Homo sapiens: one gene and its partners. The protein of the gene in region 4 purifies or fractionates together with the protein of the main gene of each other region. This does not show direct contact. Each region holds a gene or a part of one and is shown on either strand. Other genes may lie near its edges. The genes, in order: ACADS, HEATR5A, MLLT10 and KIF6.

The links.
Region 1: the proteins of KIF6 (region 4) and ACADS purify together in Homo sapiens (affinity purification with mass spectrometry; 2 studies listed by BioGRID and IntAct, with this or other methods). This does not show direct contact.
Region 2: the proteins of KIF6 (region 4) and HEATR5A purify together in Homo sapiens (affinity purification with mass spectrometry; 3 studies listed by BioGRID and IntAct, with this or other methods). This does not show direct contact.
Region 3: the proteins of KIF6 (region 4) and MLLT10 purify together in Homo sapiens (affinity purification with mass spectrometry; one large-scale study listed by BioGRID and IntAct). This does not show direct contact.

What each region holds. Positions count from the first base shown.
Region 1 is NC_000012.12:120,728,775-120,732,342, forward strand, and holds part of ACADS (short-chain specific acyl-CoA dehydrogenase, mitochondrial isoform 1 precursor), read left to right. Parts: intron 1-3,568. UniProt on the Homo sapiens protein: Short-chain specific acyl-CoA dehydrogenase is one of the acyl-CoA dehydrogenases that catalyze the first step of mitochondrial fatty acid beta-oxidation, an aerobic process breaking down fatty acids into acetyl-CoA and allowing the production of energy from fats.
Region 2 is NC_000014.9:31,382,531-31,386,098, forward strand, and holds part of HEATR5A (HEAT repeat-containing protein 5A), read right to left. Parts: intron 1,242-3,568; coding exon 991-1,241; intron 1-990.
Region 3 is NC_000010.11:21,736,668-21,740,235, reverse strand, and holds part of MLLT10 (protein AF-10), read right to left. Parts: intron 207-3,568; coding exon 1-206. UniProt on the Homo sapiens protein: Probably involved in transcriptional regulation. In vitro or as fusion protein with KMT2A/MLL1 has transactivation activity. Binds to cruciform DNA.
Region 4 is NC_000006.12:39,333,884-39,337,451, reverse strand, and holds part of KIF6 (kinesin-like protein KIF6), read left to right. Parts: intron 1-903; coding exon 904-920; 3' UTR 921-3,568.

The DNA of each region.
Region 1 (3,568 bases), on a different chromosome or scaffold from region 4:
GGGATTACAGGCGTGAGCCACCACACCCGGCCTTAAAAATGAGTTTTAAAAGGGACGTAAAACATTGTTTTTATATGAGGGACCCACTAACCGTTTCCCAGATATGAAGGCAGCAGGTGCTGCAGGCTTGCCTTGTCTGTCACTGCTGGGAAAGGGGTCTTACAGTTTCTTACGGTTTCTCTTGGGAGTCTGGAGACCACCAGGCTCAGCCTCATCAGTGCTGTTGCCTCTTCTCAGGGTGCAGGTCAGGGTTGCTGGGTCACAGACACTAGGAACCAAGAGTGACCATTGCAGGGGGCTCTAGGAGGCCACCCCTTGAGATAGCTCTGAAGGTCAGGCCTCTCTGTAGAAAATACTAAAATATTGGGGCTGGGACGGGCGCCTGGCTGCTGTTAGTTAATTACCATCAATTTACATAGGTCAGAAACGATGGACAAACCCGAACCCATTTTTTTCCCTTGACTGCTTCTCTTTTTCTTTTTTCTTTTTTTTTTTTTTTTTGAGATGGAGTCTCACTCTGTCCCCCAGGCTGGAGTGCAGTGGTGCGATCTTGGCTCACTGCAGCCTCTGTCTCCCAGGTTCAAGTGATTATCCTGCCTCAGCCTCCCAGGTAGCTGGTACTACAGGTGCCCGCCACCATGCCTGGCTAATTTTTGTATTTTTAGTAGAGATGGGGTTTCACCATGTTGGCCAGGCTGGTCTTGAACTCCTGACCTCAGGTGACCTGGCTGCCTCAGCCTCCCAAACTGCTGGGATTACAGGTGTGAGCCACTGCTTAATTATATTTTGGGTTTCTCCTTTTTGACTGTCTCGTCTCTTCCCTCTCCTGCCACCCCTTTTTCCTTCCCTCGGTGCTGGTCTCCCTGTCTCTTTTTCAGGAGGCCCTTTAACGAGTGCACATTACCATGGTTATTGCTTTTGTCCCCACTTTTTTTCTAGAATGTTCCTGTAGCTGGCCACAGTTTGTTGCCTGAAATCTAGAGATAAATTTCAGAGTGAGAAGGCCTGGGAAACAGCCCCTGTCACCACTGATAAAATGGGGTGAGGTGACTGTGTCCAGGCTCTGGGATGGGATGGAGAAGGCTGTGCTCTTAGGTGCTGCCCCAGAGCGGTGCTCCTCTCTTTTGAAATTTGCTGTCTCAACACCAGAGTGGGAGTGAGTGGAACTGCCATGTCTTTCACAGCCACAGGTAGATGCTTTATTTTTTAAATTATTTTTGTGTGTGTGTGATGGAGTCTCGCTCTGTCCCCAGGCTGGAGTACAGTGGTGCGATCTCGGCTCACTGTAGCCTTTGCCTCCTGGGTTCAAGCAATTTTCCTGCCTCAGCCTCCCAAGTAGCTGGAACTACAGGTGCGCACCACCACACCCGGCTAATTTTTGTCTTTTTAGTAGAGACGGGGTTTCACCATGTTGGCCAGGCTGGTCTCGAACTCTTGACTTTGTTATCCGCCCGCCTGGGCCTCCCAAAGTTCTGGGATTACAGGCATGAGCCACCGCGCCCAGCTGGTAGATGCTGTAAAAGAAAATGCTGATGGTGAGAAAGGAGGGAAGACAGGAGCTGGGGGAAAATTGAGGGCGATGGTATATGCTAGTGAGGTCCTTTGGGTGTGGGAATTGTGAATTCCTACAACTTTTGATTCTAGCTCATTGAGAAGTGTCGCATTAGTCAGAGGGAGGCGGCGCTGTGTAGGGAGGAGGAGGCTGGGGTTCTGTCTTGCCTCCTGGTGGCCTAGACCTGGCCACTGACACCACATACCCTTTCTGTGTGAATTCCCTCATCTGTAAGAGGAATATGGGGTCACCCTCATTCTGCTACCTGTCGGGACGTGTGACCAAGCATTTTAGGTGAGTATGAGGAACTGAACGCACCTAGGAGAGTTTCATCCTTTTACTCTCTTTCTGGGAATTTGGGTTCCCACTGTGTTTCTGGGGATGAGATGGAGTTATGGAGCGATTGGCTCATGTGCCATTTATTCCAGGGTTTTATACCAACAAGTTCCGGGGTGAAAAGGAGGGTGTGTCTCTGTCCAGGGAGATCTGAAGGTGCTTGGAGGGTGAGGCGGCTTGAGCTAGTTTAGCCTTATTCTGTTTTGCTGGTAAGCTAGAGAAAAAGGCTTTTGGTGAGGTTCATGCCTAGGCCTGACCGTGAGTCTTGGACAACTGCATATTTATTTTTGTTTTTGTTTTTTTGAGACAGGGCCTCACTGTCGCCCAGGCTGGAGTGCAGTGACACAAACACAGCTCACTGCAGCCTTGACCTCCCGGGCTCAGGGCTCAAGTGATCCTCATGCCTCACCTCCTGCAGTAGCTGGGACCACAGGTGTGCACCGCCATGCCTGGCTCATTTATTTTTATTTTTATAACTTTTTGTGGAGATGGGGGTCTCGCCATGTTGATGAAGCTGGTCTCAAACGCCTGGACTCAGATGATCCTCCTACCTCCGTCTCCCAAAGTGCTGGGATTACAGGCCTGAGCTACCACACCCTCTTTTTAAAATTTTTTTAATTAAAAAATTTTCTTTTAGAAACAGGGGTATCATCATGTTGGCCAGGCTGGATTTGAACGCCTGGGCTCAAGTGATTCTCCTGCCTCAACCTCCTCCTGAGTAGCTGGAGACCTGCGTATTTCTAGCACTTGGTAGAGTATTGTCCAGCAGCAGAGGTGTTCCTTAATAAAATAGTTTTTTTTTTTTTTTTTGAGGCGGAGTCTCACTCTGTTGCCCAGGCTGGAGTATAGTGGCACGATCTTGGCTCACTGCAACCTCCACCTCCTGGGTACAAATGATTCTCCTGTCTCAGCCTCCCAAGTAGCTGGGATTATAGGCGCCCACCATCACGCCTGGCTAATTCTTGTATTTATTTTATTTTATTTTATTTTTTTTATTGATCATTCTTGGGTGTTTCTCGCAGAGGGGGATTTGGCAGGGTCATAGGACAATAGTGGAGGGAAGGTCAGCAGATAAACAAGTGAACAAAGGTCTCTGGTTTTCCTAGGCAGAGGACCCTGCGGCCTTCCGCAGTGTTTGTGTCCCTGGGTACTTGAGATTAGGGAGTGGTGATGACTCTTAAGGAGCATGCTGCCTTCAAGCATCTGTTTAACAAAGCACATCTTGCACCGCCCTTAATCCATTTAACCCTGAGTGGATACAGCACATGTTTCAGAGAGCACAGGGTTGGGGGTAAGGTCATAGATCAACAGCATCCCAAGGCAGAAGAATTTTTCTTAGTACAGAACGAAATGAAGTCTCCCATGTCTACTTCTTTCTACACAGACACAGCAACCATCCGATTTCTCAATCTTTTCCCCACCTTTCCCCCTTTTCTATTCCACAAAACTGCCATCGTCATCATGGCCTGTTCTCAATGAGCTGTTGGGTACACCTCCCAGACGGGGTGGTGGCCGGGCAGAGGGGCTCCTCACTTCCCAGTACGGGCGGCCGGGCAGAGGCGCCCCTCACCTCCCGGACGGGGCGGCTGGCCGGGCGGGGGCTGACCCCCACCTCCCTCCCGGACGGGGCGGCTGGCCGGGCGGGGGCTGCCCCCAACCTCCCTCCCGGACGGGGTGGCT
Region 2 (3,568 bases), on a different chromosome or scaffold from region 4:
CTAGCTATTAAAAAAGAAACAAAATTCAAACACCTTGCTTGCCTATGTTGTATTATCTAGGTTTCATTAAAATTTTTCTTTAGTTCTCTTCAAAATTCTTTGTACATTAAAACTGGGTTATTTATTCACTAGGTTTGTGTCATTTATTTGTCTGATTCTAAATTTACTCAGAAAATGACATTTTTTGGTAGCAATACAATTTGGAGAAGTTGAATATCATTATGAACTCATGAAATTTTATATATTATCTAGTATGTTTTAATTCACTGTAGTCATTATTAATTTTGATGTATAAATCATGCCATCTTTGATCAGTGGGAGCCCCTTAAGTTACCTCTTTTTAAAATGAACATAGTATTCCTTGATGACTTCCTTACTTTCTGGCATGACAAGATATCCCAAGTTTATGTTGTGCATTTCCTGCCCCAGACCTGAAACTAGCCATTGCTCCATAGAGTCCTGATTCCTTTTTGGTTGGAAACAGTATTTAGAGCTATAATCTGGGCACTAGGGGTATCCCTGACACTGGGTTATCATTGCTTTTAGGCCTTTTCACTGTACAAAAGGAGGATGTAAGTATTTTCAAAAAAATAAAATGAGTTCATACTGACAATTTCAATTTGAATCTAACGTATGGGACTTTTACTTAACTTCAATTCTACAGTTTTAGTTCTTTCTACTTATATTGAAAACCTTCGTTCCTAAGAACATTAATATAACTATTTGTCTACTTGATCTTAAGATATGTAAACTATTTTTAAAGTAATACCACAAATAATACCACTAACTAAATTATTAAATATTAAGCTTAGTTATTTAAGATTTCTTTTGCAGCTCTATTTATCCTCTAAAATAAAATTGTAAATGTACTTATATGGCAGGGCTAGATGTACAGCAAAATAAAGCATTCAGTAACAAATTCTGTTACTATGTGAAGATACTTCTAACAAAAAGCACCTCATTATCATACATAGAGAATGAAATCATTACCTTGCCTTTTCCATGAGGAATTCCTAAAGGACAATGTTTTACTGCTCCCAACAAAGCTGCTACAGCAAAACTGAAGCCAGTCACTGCTTCAGGTGAAGACTTATGTCCAGTAAGCCGTTCAAGGCAACGATCCAAGAGTGGTGTTAGGTAGGAGGGTAATGCCACGGCAATGCAGTGTAAACACCAAGCTGCTGCTAGTCGAACAGAAATGCTAGGATGAAGAATAACTGACAAGATACTGTCAAGGAGACCTGGAAGGATAAACAAATGATGACTTAGGTACATAGATAAAACTCACCTGACCATAAAATAGTCAAAAGAATACATAGCCACATGGATATAAAATATATTTTTATCAAAAGCCACATTATAATAGAAAAATACATAATTACAAATAATTTTCTTTTAACTTCATTTTTCTCCCTTCTCACCATTCCTATTCAAAATAATTTTCTAACCTAAGAATCACTTCTACTAATATATCTCATGAAAGTTGTCCTAAATTAAGTCCGCGCACAAAAGAAAAACTTTATTTCCTAAATAAGCCAATCTCTTATTTAGCTTCAGATCAATTATTAATTTGGTACTAAAAATTAAAAGTTATCAACAAATAACACCTTGAAAAGAAATGTCACACCCTGGCCAGCTGTGGTGGCTCACGCCTGTAATCCCAGCACTTTGGGAGGCCAAGGCAGGCAGACTGCCTGAGCTCAGGAGTTTGAGACCAGTCTGGGCAACATGACAAAGCCCTGTCTCTACCAAAAATGCAAAAAATTAGCCAGGCATGGTGATGCATGCCTGCTGTCCCAGCTACTAGGGAGGCTGAGGTGGGAGGATCGCTTGAGCCAGGGTGGCGGGACTTGCAGTGAGCCAAGATTGTGCCACTGTACTCCAACGTGGGTGACAGACTGAGACCCTGCCTTGAAAAAAAAAAAAAAGTCATACCCTGCCCCACCCTCTTTTTATTTTTTAATCCTTCTAGTACATTTATCTACATAATTCATATACTTTTTTTTTTTTTTTTGAGATAGCATCTTGCTCTGTCACCCAGGCTGGAATGCAGTGGTGCAATCTTGGTTCACTGCAACCTTCGCCTTCCGGGTTTAAGTGATCCTCTCGCCTCAGCCTCCTGAGCAGCTAGGATCCCAAGTGCGTGCCACTACACCTGGCTAATTTTTGTATTTTTAGTAGAGATGAGGTTTCACCATGTTGGCCAGGTTGGTCTTGAACTCCTGACCTCAGGTGATCCACTCACCTCACCTTCCCAAAGTGCTGGATTACAGGCATGAGCCACCATGCCCAGCCTACATAATTAATACACTTTCTATCCACCATGTTGCTCTTATAAGAATAAAACATTAAAATCAAGGCTTCACTAGGTCCTCAGTGGGCTACTAACCAACTAACTACAAAGACAGTGAAGTAACTGTCACCATCAATAAAAGAAAGGGTATTATTTGCTATGATTCAACATAAACTTTCATGAAACATGTAAGTTTCATGTCAAATGCTATTTAAGTAAGTGTCCCAGATCTAAATAGCTTATAAACACAAATATAATGTAAAGTTTCTCAGCAAGAAATGTGTGCCACGAAGGATAAAAGCCATAATGATATATTTTTTGAAACAGGGTCTCACTCTGTCACCCAGGATGGAATGCAGTGGCATGATAATAGCTCACTGTAGCCTCAGTCTCCTAGGCATAAGTGATGCTCCTGGCTCAGCCTCCCAAAGAGCTAGGACTACTACAAGTGCACACCACCATACCTGGCTAAGTTTTAAAAAATTTTTAGTAGAGAGGAGCTCTCACTATGTTGCCCAGGCTGGTCTTGAACTCAGCTCAAGCAATTCTCCCATTTTGGTCTCCTAAAGTGCTGGGATTACAGGCGTGAGCCACCATGCCAGGCCTAAAAAGTGATTTTTAAAAGTGATTTTTTAAAAAGAAGCAAGTCATTTATGACCATATATTGAATGATTTTTTTTTAACATGAAATATCCAGAATAGGTGGATTCATAGAGACAGAAAGTAAATTCATGGTCGTCAGGGGCTGCGGCAAAGGGAAATGGAAATGACAACTAATGGACTTCTTCCTGGGGTAATGAAAAGACTCTGGAATTAGACAGTGGTAGTGACTGTACAGTATAGCAAATATACTCAAAATCCCTGAATTGTATACCTTATAAGCGTAAACTTCATGGTAAGTGATTTATATCTTTTTTTGTTTTTTGAGACAAAGTCTCTTGTTGCCCAGGCTGGAGTGCAGTGGCGTTATCTTGGCTCACTTCAACTTCCACGTCTGGGGCTCAAGCGATTCTCGTGCCTCAGCCTCCCGAGTAGCTGGGAATACAGGCATGCGCCACCATGACGGGCTAATTTTTCTATTTTTAGTAGAGACGGGGTTTTGCCATGTTGGCCAGGCTGGTCTTGAACTCCTGACCTCAAGTGATATGCCTGCCTCAGCCTCCCAAAGTGCTGGATTATATGCATGAGCCACTGTGCCTAGCCATGAATTATATCTGAATAAAGCTATTATAAAGTGATTAAACACTTAAGAAAGAAAATACTGCTTTAAAGACC
Region 3 (3,568 bases), on a different chromosome or scaffold from region 4:
GCTACTTTCTGACTTGCATTATCTCCATGGATGGTGAGAAATGGGTTGGTGGTAGCTGTGTGAAGTGGGGGTGCCTGTGTACCTGCAAGAAGGTTGTTTATGGGTATTTGTGTTGGTCCAGGGATCTGCAGCTGCTGAAGTTCAGGTTGGTGGTGCTGCTGGTGGTGATGTTGCATTAACTGATACAAAAAGGCTTGATGTTGTTCCTTAGGCAAAAAACATGTGAGAGAAAATGAGTTCCCAAGCACGGAATTCAGCAGTCAGATGAGCTGCCTTATGTTTTCTTTCCTTTAATATTAGATATTTGCAAAGAAAGAAAACAAGTATCTCATCTAGAAAAATATGCTGCACTAGATAATAACCATCTACTATAAAATGTCAGTATCTTCAGCAAACAGCTTATTTTCAAAACAGGACACACATAGGAGAGCTCTATTAGGTTATCCGTGATGATCAATCAGGAAGTGCAGCAGCTTAAGAGAAATCAAGGTGGACATTTGAATGCATCATGCGTGGTCAAACCCTTTCCAAACTTAAAACAACCTTAAAGTTCCCGTTTCTGCCTGTCATTAGGGTGCTTTCTTGATGCAGTTACCACTCTACAGCAAGCATATACTCCATGCAGCGTATATTTATAGATTTCCTGAGTGCTTACTAGGTGCCAGGCACTGCTTTTGGTGCTTGAAACACATTGAGCAGGGAAAGGGAAATAAATGAAAACGTTAGAATGTGATTACTGCTCTGCGTCAAGGGAAACACAACTGTGTATGAGAAAGTCTGGAGGGAGTAGGGTTTAATGGTCAGGTTGTAATTTTAAGCAGATTACCCAGGGCAGTTTTCATTGGGAAGTTAACATCTGGATGAAGATTTGGAGGAGAAGAGGGAATTCGCTGGGTGGATATGGGGGCAGGTGAGGATTTCCAGGCAGTGCCAAAGGCCTCCAGAGGAGCAGGCCCAGCAGGATCCAGTGGCAGCAAGGACCCGGGAAGGGTGGAGGGAGCCAGGAGGAAGTGAGGAGAACACAGAGCTTGCAGTGGCAAGGCATGGCCACCTTGGCTTGTATTCATGGTAAAACGGGAAGGTTTTGAGAAGTGGCACAGTCTGATTTCAGGATGGAGTCAATGTGGGGTGTCAGAGTGAGGATGGAGCTGCCATCAGCTGAGGTGAGGAAAACGATGGGTGGGGCGGGGTTGTGCAGGAAGATCAGCTGTTCGGTTCTGGACACGTTATGTTTGAAATGTCTTTTAAGATATGCCAGCGGAGCTACTGAGTGAGCAGCTGCATTACAGGAGCTTGAAGCTCCAGAGAGAGGTCTGGCTGGAGATGTAAGTATCAGCACAGAGATGCTATTTACAGACAGTGATGAGAGATCACTGAATTCCACCTTGGGCACTCTCAGGCTGAAGAGGAGGACCCAGGAAAGGATGCTAAAAAGGAATGACCAGTTAGGTAGTAAGACACCAAGATGATGTGGTATCCTGGAAGCTAAGAGGAGGAAATGTTTCAAGGAGGAGGAAAAGCGATCAACTCTGTCTAATGCCGTTGCCAGGTGACGTTAAGATGAAGAATGAGAAGGGACCACTGGATTTAGCAAACATGCAAGTCATCTGGGGGAAGCAGAGTCAAGCAAGAGTGTCGAGCGGAAGCTGTGCGGAGGCTTCCAAAAAATCCTCACCTACGTTAAGTTTGATCCCTGTAAATGAACAAACTTTAGCCCACGACATTGGCAGATGAAGGAAAAAGTACAGTCCTTTAGTCCTCATGGTCTCCAAGCAATAATTTGTGCTGAAAATTCCTTAACCATGTTCTGGAAATGAGACAGCTACACATGCTATTATTAGAGTAAAATCTTGATTAATAGGAAGACACCCAAATAAATGGAGTTTTAGTGCTCATATTAAGATGAGGCAACTGGTAAGAAAAAACAAGATCCCATCTTAGTGTCAGCATTTAAGATTTTTTTTTTTTGAGACCGAGTCTCGCTCTAGTTGTCCAGGCTGGAGTGCGGTGGTGTGCTCTCGGCTCACTGCAACCTACACCTCCTGGTTCAAGCGATTCTCCTGCCTCAGCCTCCTGAGTAGCTGAGATTATACACACGCGCCACCACACCCGGCTAATTTTTGTATTTTTAGTAGAGACGGGGTTTCACCACGTTGGTCAGGCTTGTCCCGAACTCCTGACCTCGTGATCCGCCCACCTCCGTCTCCCAAAGTGCTGGGATTACAGGCATGAGCCACCACGCCCGGCCAGCATTTAAGAATTTATATACACTTACATGCAGTGTGCCTTTAACACCACTCTAAAAACAGACTGAAAATGATCCAGAATCAAAAGTATTTTCAATATATTTTTGACTGCAGCAAAATAGTACATAAATATACTTAGAAAGGATGTCAGCCTTTGTAATTTCTATGTTAATTAAGCAATGCATTCTCCAAGCAGCCCAACTGAATGAAGAGTGCTAGGGAAATGGGTCTGGAGGAAGCCCCACGACTGTCCACAGGGCCAGGCCTGCCCTGCACCTGAGCCACAATCCCACTTGGGTCTCGGTCCATACTTTCTCCCCTTCTACAAGTTCTCTATTTCCCATCTCCCCTCTTATCTAACCGTTAACACCCATCTCCTTCCCTCTGCTGATCACTTTACTTCTAATTAAGAAAATCAGAAGCACTGAAAGTGGGATTGCTTCAACCCTCCACATAAAACCCACCTCCAGTTGCTCTGCCTGCCTTGCTGGGGCAGTGAAATACCGTTCTCATCTCCTCCTCTGCTAGCACCTTTCTTCTCTCCTATCCCAGCAATGTCCCATCAACATACACACACGCTGTCACATTCAAAATGAGTCGAAACTGCCCCGTGTGCCCACCACATCTGCCTCCTGCTTCCCCTTCCTCTGCTTTCCAAAGTGACATGTCTTGAGGTGCCCATATGCTATCTTTACTTCCTCTCCCTCCCATTTCCTTTTGAACCATTTAATGAGGTTTTTACTTTCATCACACCCAAACTGTAAAAAGCCTCTAGACAACCTTTAAGAAAGAAACAGTCCCTGTCAGGTGCAGGTGTCACTGCACCCTCAACCTCCTGGGCTCCAGTGATCCTCCCACCTCAGCCTCCCAATTAACTGGAACCACAGGCATGCACCAGCACGCCCGGTTGGTCAATTCTTTCTTACCCTACCACAGAAGCATTTTACACAGTTGACTCCTCCCTTTCTGGAAACATTTCCTTCACCTTGCCCCTAAGATGCCACACTGTCCTTCTCTTGGCTCACTGGCCACAGTTTCTCAATAGCCTTTCTTTACTGGCTTATTCTCCTTTTCTAGGGTGTCCAGGACTCAGTCTTCATGCTCTAGGAGTCCGCATCAAATCTGATGGCTCTCATCACCTGTGCAGCACTAACCCCAGATTTCTAACTAACTGCATCTCTGCCTGGGACTCCAGACACCTACTGTGCAACTGCCTTATCTCCATTTGACTTGTACATCTAAAGAGATTTCAAGCTTAGTGTGTCCATGACACCTATTTTTCTCTCCAAAATTGGTTGGGTTCTGTTCTCCCACATCTCAGT
Region 4 (3,568 bases):
AATTCCAGATACTTGGGAGGCTGAGGCAGGAGAATCACTTGAACCCCGGAGGCAGAGGTTGCAGTGAGCCGAGATTGTGCCACTGCACTCCAGCCTGGGTAACAGAGCAAGACTCCGTCCAGAAAGAAAAGAAAGAAAAAGAAAGAAGGAAGGAAGGAAGGAAGAGGGGAAGGGAGGGGAGGCTGGAGGGAGGGAGGGAAAGAAAAGAAAGAAAAAGAAAGAAAGAAAGAAAGAAAGAAAGAAAGAAAGAAAGAAAGAAAGAAAGAAAGAAAGAAAGAAGGAAGGAAAGAAAGAAAAGAAAGAGAAAGGAAGGAAGGAAGGAGGAAAGAAAGAAAGAAAGAGAAGAAAGAAGAAAGAAAGGAAAGAAGGAAAGAAAGGAAAGAGAAAGAAAGAAAGAAAGAAAAAGGAAGGAAGGAAAAGAAAGGAAGGAAGGGAGGGAGGGAGGGAAGAAAGGAAGGAAAGAAGGGGAGAGAAAGAGAGAAAGAATGAAAGAGAAGAAAGAGAAAGAAAAAGAAAGAAAGAAGAGAAAGGGAAGAAAGGGAAGAAAGGGAAGGAAGGGAAGGAAGGACAGAAGAAAGGAAGGAAGGAAAAGACAAGACTCCAGCCTCGGTGACAGAGCGAGACTCCATCAAAAAAAAGAAAGAAAGAAAAGGAAAGAAAACGGTGGGGTAGGAAAACAGGCGTCAGTCTCAGCCTAGGGAGATGGAGCTTCTGCAAAGGGCAAAGGGGGCCTCTTCCTTCAGAGCTTGGGGTATAAATGCAGCTCCTGGGAGGCAAGACACAGATGCAGTGCCCAAGACCCAGGGGGAGTGGCTGGTGGCCTCCCCTCCCCCCGATTCAATCCTGGGAAAAGTCAGTGTCTGCATGCACAGCCTAACCAAAAGCATCCTGTCTCCCTTTCAGGTTTGGGAAGCAATTGAATTTCCAGGAAATATCCATCCATGAATTATGCCAGCAAGAATGAAGCACAGATGAAGGCAGCGCCCCTCACTTGCTCTGGCTTCAGAAGTGAACTATGGGCTGCTGGGAGCAACTAGTGACTTTGATTCCCATGGAGGGGACTGTGTTTCTTTAAGGATGCTGACCTGGAGGCCACCGAGAGGCTGGGGCTGGGGCTGACCACAACATCCTTCCTGTGGTTGCTGGAGCTGCTGGCAGGGCCAGGCAAGGCCAGAGTGCTAGGGGCAGGGTGAAGGCTTCAGCTCACTGTTGTAGTGACGTTTTGTGTAGATCTTTATAAGCTTTTGAGAATGTGAAATAGCACCATCAAAATATAATGTCAGAGGATGCTCACACCAGTGGAATGTGGGGGGAATATTTTTATTTTTAACGATTTGCCAGCTCTCTCCCTTGGCCCGTGCTCTGGTTTGGAAGCCCAGAAATGGCCATGACAGGTCCAGGCAGGATGTCCCAGCCACAGGCAAGGCAGTGGAATGCAGGGCATCCTGAAGGCCAATCCTGATCTCCCAGACCACATCTTTCACCATCAGCCTCTTGGCCAGGATGACCTGGAGGCAGTGCCTGAACAGCTGTGTCTCCAGGGAGCCATCTGCCCTGCAGGGTCTAAGGACATCATAGCACCCAGAGAACAGTGGGCAGCTCCCAGGGGCTCTGCTGAGAGCTTGAGAGAGGGCAGTGTGGGTACCTTGGGCCTCACAACCTTCACCCAGCCACTTGGGAGGATTTGGGCTGACACTCCCCACTTCCACAGGGAAAAACATAGCTGCCTGGGGGTCTTGTCTCCATGGGCCCTCTCCATGACAGATCCAAGGGAAGGTGGGCAGCCCTCAAGGAGGTTCTTGAAGAACTGCCCCCTGGGCCAGGGGGTTCCAACCCAGCTGCAGCCAGGGAGGGGCAGCGGAGGGTGAGCAGGAGTGGCACCTGGAAATGAAGCTAACTGGATAAAAGTGCTGGTCCACTGCTCCTGGTGTCTCTGTCCTATAAATACAGGACCTGATGACCCTGGAGGGGAGCAGAGTGGTAATATAGTATAATTGGCTTGATTTTCTTTTTCGTTTTTTAGGACTGGGTAACAGGATCATGCAGGAGAAGATTAAACCATTACATTTCTAAGCTAGGCAGGCCCATCGAGCTCCTCTAATCCACACCCCTATTTTATATAATTAGAAGGCCAGAGTGAAGGGGAGATTCAGCTTGCTGTTCTATGCCACTGACAAATGTCCCCTCTTCAGGGGGCTTCCCCTGACCACTCCATCTCGAGTCACCCCCTAGTTATCCCCTATCCCATTACCATTTTTTCTGCATCACTATCTGACATGTTATCCTTCCGAACTTGCCTATTTTTGAAATACCTGCAACCCCCCATAATACTAAGAGCTCCAATGCAACAGGGACCTGTTTGTCTTGCTCATTGCTGTGTCCCAAGCACAGAGTCGCTGTTCAGTAAACGGTCCTTCAGTTCATGAGTAGACGAGCCAGAACCCAGATGTGTTTCTCAGGCTGGTGTCACTCTGACTTCCCCCAGGCTCTGACTGAATCCCATCGGGACAGGGGCCAGCATCTCTGGTCCACTCCTGGCCCTCACAGTTCAATGGAACATAGTAAGCCCTCTGTAAAGTCTGTAGAACCAGAGGAAGACCAAATTCTGATTCTAGAAGCCTCCCCAAGAGTCCATGGAACACACATGTAACTGCACACACACACACACATACACACACACACTCTCAAGAGCCCTGAAGATGGCATGGCATTTGCCCCAGTCCCCTATGTAGCAGCAGCAGTATTCTTGGCATGCCTTAGTGCCCTCAGCCCTCTAGAGCTGGGTAGAGTCTACTAACTTTTATTTTCTTTTATTTTTACTTTCTTTTATTTATTTTTTGAGATGGGGGGGGTCTCTGTCAGCCAGGCTGGGGTGCAGTGGTGCGACCATACCTCACTAGTCAGCCTCCAACTCCTGGGCTCAAGCCATACTCAGCCTCCAACTCCTGGGCTCAAGCGATCCTCTCACCTCAGCCTCCAAAGTAGCTGGAACTACAGGCATGCACCACCACACCTAGCTCGTTTTAAATTTTTTGTAGAGACAGGGTCTCACTGTGTGGCTCAGGATGGTCTCAAATTCCTGGCCTTAAGCGATGCTCCCGCCTTGGCCTCCCAAAGTGCTGGGATTGCAGGCATGAGCCACATACCCTGCCAGAGTCTTTCAACATTAGATCTCCCACTGAGACATCATCTCCTGGATCCAAAGGCCTTACTGACAGAGATGTGTGGCATGGCCCCATGCGGGGTGTGAACCAGCCTCCTGGGGCAATCACTAAGACAGGAAAGGAAATGAAGACAGAAAAACACACAACATGGGATCTGGGGCCACTGGTGTCCAGAGCATATGCAAAGTGTGTGCAGCAACTGGCCAAGGGGCCTTTTGCTCCGAACATCCCCTAATGGAAGCCCAGCCTTTGATATGGACACATGCTTGACAGCAGTGCACCTTCCCAGAGTTCACTGGCCTCTGCAAATGGGAGAAATTGATGCAATGTTTTGAAAAGACTTTCCAGCAATCCACCTGGGATCAGTGGAGCCACGGATGACAAGAAGTATCTGAGTTCACTCT